Linked DNA regions of Homo sapiens. The protein of the gene in region 1 interacts with the protein of each later gene in a biochemical or structural test. Each region holds a gene or a part of one and is shown on either strand. Other genes may lie near its edges.

Region 1 (3,909 bases):
TTCTTGATTCCTAAGAAATTATGCTGTCAGTCTGGTTGTAGGCAAGGGTTGCAATTTTCCCTCTGGAAAAAACAAATCAGAAGTTAGTCCATTTGTATAACACTGCTTAGTAACTGTTTAGAAATTATATCAGTAACACTAAGAATAAGCTCAAGCTATCTCCTAAGTGACCCAATTTATTGACTTTCAGGACAAACAGTATATGAAATCAATTCTAATTTCCATATATCAAGAAATAACAAGCATGTCTTATTTCAGTAATCTTTTATAAACTTTCTATATCTTAGGGTCGTAGGTTATAACAGATGCATAGTATTTTAAAACCAAAATAAATTTACCTTTAAGTGGCCTTAGTATAAGCCATAAGAAAGGCCTGTTTCAAAACTACTAACAGGAATTTATCAGAGTAGGAGCTCAAACTACTGAAATACGATTTTAGAAGGACTTTTATTTTGGAAAAAGAATATAAAACTGGAATTTGGGAAGAAAGGGTTAGATAGTGGAAAGCACCCCAGATTGGATCCGAGTCCTTATTCTCAAACTACCTAATGAGATGAAATTGTGCAAGTGATTTAAATTTGATGAGATTCATCTGGAGATCTATTAATGAGTTTAAAGTCTTAAAGTGCTTACTGCTTTCTGATTAATTTTATATTAAAAGTCCTCAAAGCAGAAAGAATGTCAGATAAAAAAAAGTATGTGAGATCCAAAGTGGACTTACAATCACATGCATGAAGAAGTCATGTGTATACAACAGCCCCTGGGGAAAATGTTAAATATGTCATGGGGGCTCTACATTTAGCTGAGGACTGGGCCAAACATCCTAGCAGATTCTTTTCAGTTATTCTGATGTGTCATCTCTTTGGGGAAAAACCTAACTTCACTAATATCCAGGCTCAGGAAGTGAAAAAGACAGAAGCCTTACCTAGCCACTGTGACCAGAAGTGATTAATTTAATCAACTGCCCACCTCAACCATCACCAACTTTTGCAATCACTTGGCGAAATCAATGTCCAACAAGTGAAGCAAACCCAAATGTGGTGAACATTCCTCCATTGCCAAAATGGGACAACTGCCTTATCTCCTCATCAAAGCCCATCTTCTGGGAAATCAGCTTCTCTGTTAAATACCCAAGTGGGCTAGAAGCGCATTTTGTGGGCAACCCTATAGAAGCTCGTCCTGATGCCAACTTGCAGGGATCCAGTAAACCTCAAGTCACCGCTCCTGATAACGTAGACATCTTTTTAGACACACTATTTACACAGACTTTGTCTAGCTGGGGAAAAGGTTAATTTACTTGTATACACGGGGATAAGTAGAGCACAGCGCTTCTGGATGCCCTCAGACTTGCATCTAATTCTTTCTCCAGATCTAACGCCTCTGTTTCTACACCCAGGGGAACCTCTCCCCAGGGACTGCGCGCGCGTGCGTGCAGGTGTGTGTGTGTGTGTGTGTGTGTGTGTGTTTGTGTGTGTTAAAACGAACACTAATTCCGCGCCCAGCTTCTCTCTCCGTCCACCTGCGGCCCAAGAACTTGTGTTCCCAGATGGTACCAGCGGGGCCCGGCTTATTCCCGAACACATGTGGGGACCTGAAAGGGGCGTCGGGGACTAACCCGCCCAAACCGTGGCAAACACTCTGGGAGGCCGACTTGGGCTTGGCCTGTGGCCCGACACACCGCCCCACTCCGCGCACACGCGTCTGTGCCACTTCAGTGGCTTGCAGGACCTCCGGCGAGGATGAGTCTCCAAACCATCTCAGCCTACTCAACGGCATCTGGGATGTCCCCCTGCCTCTAAGTCAGACCCCAAGAAAGATCTTTGAGGACTTGAGCTTCACGTTGAAAATCAGTGTGGAAAATGGGGGTGTCAGTGCGGCTGGGGGAGACAAAGGGGCCCAAAAGCTCCCTCCCGTCCGCTCCAGCCCACTTAGTTCACCCTCCCACGGGGCGAGGGGCGGGCCGGGGGGCTGAGGTGGGGATGGCCCTGGAAGGGGTCCCTCCCTTCCCACCTCCTACGGCCCACTCTTACTTACTTTCTTTCGGAGCCTCAGCTTGGCCGCCTTTAGCCCAGGCAGTGCGGAGGGGAAGCGGGGAGGAGAGAGGAGCCTGCGGGCTGCAGCAGCCGGGCAGTCCCGGAATCTCCGGACTGCGTCCCTGCCCCAAGCCCGCCGGGAACCCGGGCCGTGGACGCCCCCACCCGGGGGCCGCGGCGAGGCGGGCGCGCGGGGTTCAGCACCCTCGAGGCTGGTTCCGAAGGCTCGCGGCCCTCCCCCTCCGTCCGCCGCCGTCGCGGCTAGCCGCCCCTCCCCGCCGCAGCAGGGAGGCCGCCGGGGCCCGGGGGACGCGCTCGCGCGGGGGCCGCCCCCTCCCCTTCCCTCCACCCTGGGCGGGGGCGCGCGAGAAGCGGTGACGTCAAGGGGCGCGCTGTGGCAGCACCTCCCCGCGCGCTAGTTAAAAAGAAGAAGAAAAGAGGGAACGAAACATGAGAGGCTGTGTGAGAAGCTGCAGCCGCCGGCAGAGGAGACCTCAGCATCATCTAGAGCCCAGCGCTGGCCCTGCCTCCGCCTGCCCCGCCGCCGCCGTCGCCGTTTCTGTTCCTGCTACTGTCCCACCTAAACAACTCCCGTTACACGGACAAGTGAACATCTGTGGCTGTCCTCTCCTTTTCTTCCTCCTCTTCCAACTCCTTCTCCTCCTCCCACTTCCCAGCCGCAGCAGAAAGCCCCCAACCCAACTGACACTGGCACAACTGCAAACGGTGTCATCCGCACAACTTTATCTCGCTCCTCGGGCTCCCCTAAGGCATTGGACCCATCGCCGCGTCTTTTATTTTTTGCAAAGTTGCATCGCTGTACATATTTTTGTCCCCGCCACCTCCCTCTGTCTCTGGAGTGCCCTACAGCCCCGCAAACTCCTCCTGGAGCTGCGCCCTAGTGCCCCTGCTGGGCAGTGGCGTTCCCCCCCATCCTCCCGCGCCCAGCCCCTGCTGCTCTGGGCAGACGATGCTGAAGATGCTCTCCTTTAAGCTGCTGCTGCTGGCCGTGGCTCTGGGCTTCTTTGAAGGAGATGCTAAGTTTGGGGAAAGAAACGAAGGGAGCGGAGCAAGGAGGAGAAGGTGCCTGAATGGGAACCCCCCGAAGCGCCTGAAAAGGAGAGACAGGAGGATGATGTCCCAGCTGGAGCTGCTGAGTGGGGGAGAGATGCTGTGCGGTGGCTTCTACCCTCGGCTGTCCTGCTGCCTGCGGAGTGACAGCCCGGGGCTAGGGCGCCTGGAGAATAAGGTAGGCACTCACCGGCTTCACGGATGCGTACTTGGCATATTGGCTGGGTGGGGTTCCCTGTGGCTCTGGCAAAGCCGGTGGTTGTAAGAAGGTCAAAACTTCTTTGGGGGAGTTCTTTCCATAACTTTTCTATAGCGCTAACGTGATTCCGTTGTGTGTTCCTCTGGGGTAAGCAAGTAGCATTTCCTCCCCCAGAGTCCGCGGTCGGGATGCTGTGCAAACTTGCCTATCTCTGAAAACAGACGTTTCTGCGGTACCCGCACCCTGGGCTGGGTAAATATTTTAAAAGAATCGCGATGAACAGTGTGTTTTGGATCGAATGGGGCATTGGCTGCGGTGAAACTGTAAATTAAGGTGGCTGTGGTTTCCGGCTTATTTTTCTAGGGTAAAAAGATTTGTGCTGTTTTCTCCACGTGCTCGGTTAGGGAGAGGATTGAATCGTAAAGGATGTTGAAGCATGGTTGGTTTATGATCCCCAGCCCCGTCAGAGGGGGGTGTCTTGCATTACATTAGTTAAACCAACAGAAAGGAACTCCTGGTCCTCCGGTTAGGGACCTGAAAAAAACTGGCGAAAGATTTTGCTGGGGCGTTATTTATCACATAAAACTGAGACGATTCTCCGTCATT
Region 2 (3,909 bases), on another chromosome or scaffold:
GGAGTAAGAGCGCAAAACTTAGGCTTATACAGATTGTGTATTGCACAGCTTCCAGGGACACCATTCACCTCATAGTCATTGTGTGGATAGTTACTATGATAGTTTTCTAATAAATGTCAGTCATCTTGAGGAAGGGGTGCTTTTTTTTTCTTTTTTCTTCTTCTTTTTTTTTTTTTTTTTTTTGTGAGACAAGGTCTGGCTCTATCACCCTGGCTGGAGTGCAGTGGTGCAATCTCAGCTCACTGCAACCTCCGCATTCTGGGCTCAAGCCATTCTTCCAGCTCAGGCTCCAGAATAGCTAGGACAACAGACACATGCTACCATGCCTGGCTAATTTTTGTATTTTTAGTAGAGATGGGGTTTTGCCATGTTGCCTGGGCTGGTCTTGAACTCCTGAGCTCAAGTGATCCACCTACCTTGGACTCCCCAAATGATGGAATTACAGGGGTTAGCCACAACACCCAGCCATCTTTTTTTTGGGGGGGGGGGTCCTCACTCTGTCACCCAGGTTAGAGTGCAGTGGCATGATCTTAGCTCACTCTACAGCCTTGAACTCTTGCACCCAAGTGATCCTCCTTCCTCAGCCTCCTGAGTACCTAAGACTACAGGCATGTACCACTACCTCCCACTAATTAATTTTTTTTTTTTGAAACGGGGTGTCACTATGTTGACCAAGTTGGTCTTCAACTCATGGCCTCAAGCAGTCCTTGCCTCGCCCCCAAAGTGTTGGGATTACAGGAGTGAGCCACTGTGCCTGGCCTGGTTTTTTCTGATGTACACAAAGTTGCTATGAGTACTAGCCATAGAGTGTGGTGAGGGGAGGGTGAATATGAAACACAAAGTGTAGATTCCACAAATGCTTGCAAAGCACCCTTCTGTAGAGTAGGCACTTAACCTTGGAGATACATGATAAATATGTGTGTGCTTAAGATTGCTTTGTCTAGTAAGGTGCCAGATAATTCTAATACTGTTCTAACACTGCAGTTAAGTAATGGTTCTCGAGGGAACACAGGTGGGCAGTGTTGGGACATCAAGGAAGGCTTCTTAGAAGAAATGACTTCTAAACAAAAGAAATTGGACGTGGTGCCTCTGAGATGAGATCTGAGTGGCTGAAAATGGAGCCCCGGGAGTCCAGAGAGGGAGAAAGCTGGAGAGGTGCCTAGATGGACGGTTAAGGGAAGTGATCCTCACCTCTTACAAAGACTTTTGAGTGTCCACTGCCCTTCAGCAGCTTCCAACTGAGAAGTCATTCATTTGAAAAACAGCAGCTATTAGATGCCTGGCAAAGAAGAGAAGGGGAAAAAAGTTGGAAGTCCTAAATGAGACAATAAGTACCAAGCTCTGTTCCTGGTTCTGGGGAAGTTCCAAAGGAGACTGCAAAGTTAGTAGAGAAATGGGCCCCTGGTATCCTCACCTCCCAGTCCTGCTTAATGCTGAATGTGAGGAGAGATGGAAGTCGGGGAGATCTGGGGAGGACTACAGAGAAGGGAGGCTCTGGTTGTATGCCCAAAGGGCTTGGCTGGTCTTGGGCAGAAATTGGAACCCATACTTCCTGGATGACAGCGGAGGGCATGGCCTGCCAGGGTAGGCTTTGAGAGAGTAAAAATTCCAATTCAAGTATCAGAGGAGGGTGGTTTGGTTCCAAGTTTAAGCTTGGAGGTAGAAGGATGTTTAGGCAGCCAAGGACTGTAAAGCTACAAGTATTTCCTAGGCAGGTGTCTGCCTGGTTTCCAGGATGGGACACACTTCAGTCGCAAAATGGACCAGCAGTGACCGGCTAGATCCCCCGCCCGGGTGGGAGGGGGTGGGACGGTCTTGGGAGAAGGGCGGAGGGCGGGGCCAGGGGCCACTTAAGGCGGAGTCCGGAGTCCGGGCGTTCTGGCAGCACCAGAGTCCTGCAGCAGAGACGGGCTGGGCTGGCACTCACCCACGACCCCCCTTCCCTGCTATGATGGTTTGTCAGTAGCAGGTCCTAGACACCCCCCGCCCGCTCCCGGGGCACGTGGGCAGAGCTAGCAGCAGCCAGGTGCACGGAGCCACAAGAGCTCTAGGGCACTCTGGGGGCAGCTGTGCCTGCTGCCCTCTCTGGTGCCTGTGGAGATGCCTAACTGACAGGAGAGTTAGTGAGGACAAGAACGCTCCCTTTTGGCCGAGGTCCGCTGTATCCATGGCTCTCCTGACCAATCTACTGCCCCTGTGCTGCTTGGCACTTCTGGCGCTGCCAGCCCAGAGCTGCGGGCCGGGCCGGGGGCCGGTTGGCCGGCGCCGCTATGCGCGCAAGCAGCTCGTGCCGCTACTCTACAAGCAATTTGTGCCCGGCGTGCCAGAGCGGACCCTGGGCGCCAGTGGGCCAGCGGAGGGGAGGGTGGCAAGGGGCTCCGAGCGCTTCCGGGACCTCGTGCCCAACTACAACCCCGACATCATCTTCAAGGATGAGGAGAACAGTGGAGCCGACCGCCTGATGACCGAGGTAAGGAGGGCCTCTCCCTACCTGCGCCGGGGCACTGCCAGCTCCTCCGTTTTCCTATGGCAGCCCAGGTGGGTGAGTCCAGCTTCACCTACAGAGAGTTTAGCCTTAGAGATTTCCCTTGTCACCAGCCCCAGGGGGGGGAAAAATCCTTGCAGTCTGGACAGAGTAATTAGGACGGCTCCCGACTAGAATAGTCTGGGATGGGGAGGGGAGGAGGGACTGACTAGTGAGAGTGAAGCTGGTAGAGGCAGCGAGGGCGGGGAAAGGAGGATGGCGGCAGGCGAGACGGGAAATGGCTGAGGCGTGGACCGGGGGTCAGCCACCCAGCCAGGCAGGAAGGGCTGGGGTGAGCTGGGGGCCAGGAGCTGGCTAGGTAGCAGACAGAAGCCTGGCTCCTGACCTGATTGTAGAAAAGCTCTGTGGGCCGAAAAGAAGAGACTGAAAAGGGCTGGGACAGGGGTGGCCAAGGGTCAGGTCACCAGACCATCTACCTGAGGAGGGGCTGGGCAGACATTGCTTTTGGCATGGGAAACGTGTCCTAGAACCAGGACACATCTATTCTAGGGTCTATTCTAGGGCTATCCTAGGGTCTAAACGATAATCTTGGGGTTAAAAAGTAATCCTCAGTGAGAATAACAGATGGACCCACCTGAGAATCAGAGGGCTCCTAAGTCTTCCAAGCTCTGCCTATCTCAGGGGCTTTCCTTGGAATTACATAATTAGGATAAATTCAACTACCATTTTTGAGCATTGGAACCACCTAGAGTGAGGTGGAAGAGAAGGACCACCTCTGGCGAGTGATTTATTTTTTATTTTTTGTAGAGACGGGGTCTTGCCATGTTGCCTAGGCTAGTCTTGAACTCCTGAGCTCAAGGGATCCTCCCACCTCGGCCTCCCAAAGTGCTGGATTACAGGTGTGAGCCACTTCATCCAGCCTGGCCAGTGATCTTGAATGTTAGAACTGAAAGAAAACTTGAGAGATGACATTCCTCCAACCCTCCCCACCCCCACTGCCACCCTCATTTTACATCTGAGAGCTGGACTTCCCCCAGGAGGAAAAGCAATTTAAACTCTCACAATTTAAAGTGGCATGGCTGGGACTAGAATTCAGGACTCCTGATTCTAAGCCCTATATACTTTCCATTACACCACCTAATTGTGTATGGAGTGGGGAGGTGGGGGGAGAGGGAGGGGTACGGATTTCCTCTGATTAATTGCCATAGTTTTCCAGGTTACTTTGTTAGGAAAACCTGTCCAGGGAAGAAATAATTCCTTTTGCTTCTGCCCTGAAGCCTTCCTCCTACCTAGAGATGGGAAAAGGGGCATTCCTTCTTTCCTCCTTGGCCGTGGAACATTGTGGCCCTTTCCTCTGGTTGCCACCTGCAGCAGAGTGGGCAGAACAAGGGACAGGCTCAGGAGGGGCTCCGGCAGGCCTGGGA

Evidence for each region.
Region 2: the proteins of HHIP (region 1) and DHH are reported together in a solved structure, tested with the Homo sapiens proteins (one study listed by IntAct).

Annotation. Positions count from the first base shown.
Region 1 is NC_000004.12:144,643,673-144,647,581, forward strand, and holds the start of HHIP (hedgehog-interacting protein precursor), read left to right. Parts: upstream 1-2,483; 5' UTR 2,484-3,003; coding exon 3,004-3,282; intron 3,283-3,909. UniProt on the Homo sapiens protein: Modulates hedgehog signaling in several cell types including brain and lung through direct interaction with members of the hedgehog family.
Region 2 is NC_000012.12:49,092,771-49,096,679, reverse strand, and holds the start of DHH (desert hedgehog protein preproprotein), read left to right. Parts: upstream 1-1,878; 5' UTR 1,879-2,167; coding exon 2,168-2,470; intron 2,471-2,491; exon of another isoform or gene 2,492-2,558; intron 2,559-3,261; exon of another isoform or gene 3,262-3,431; intron 3,432-3,763; exon of another isoform or gene 3,764-3,909.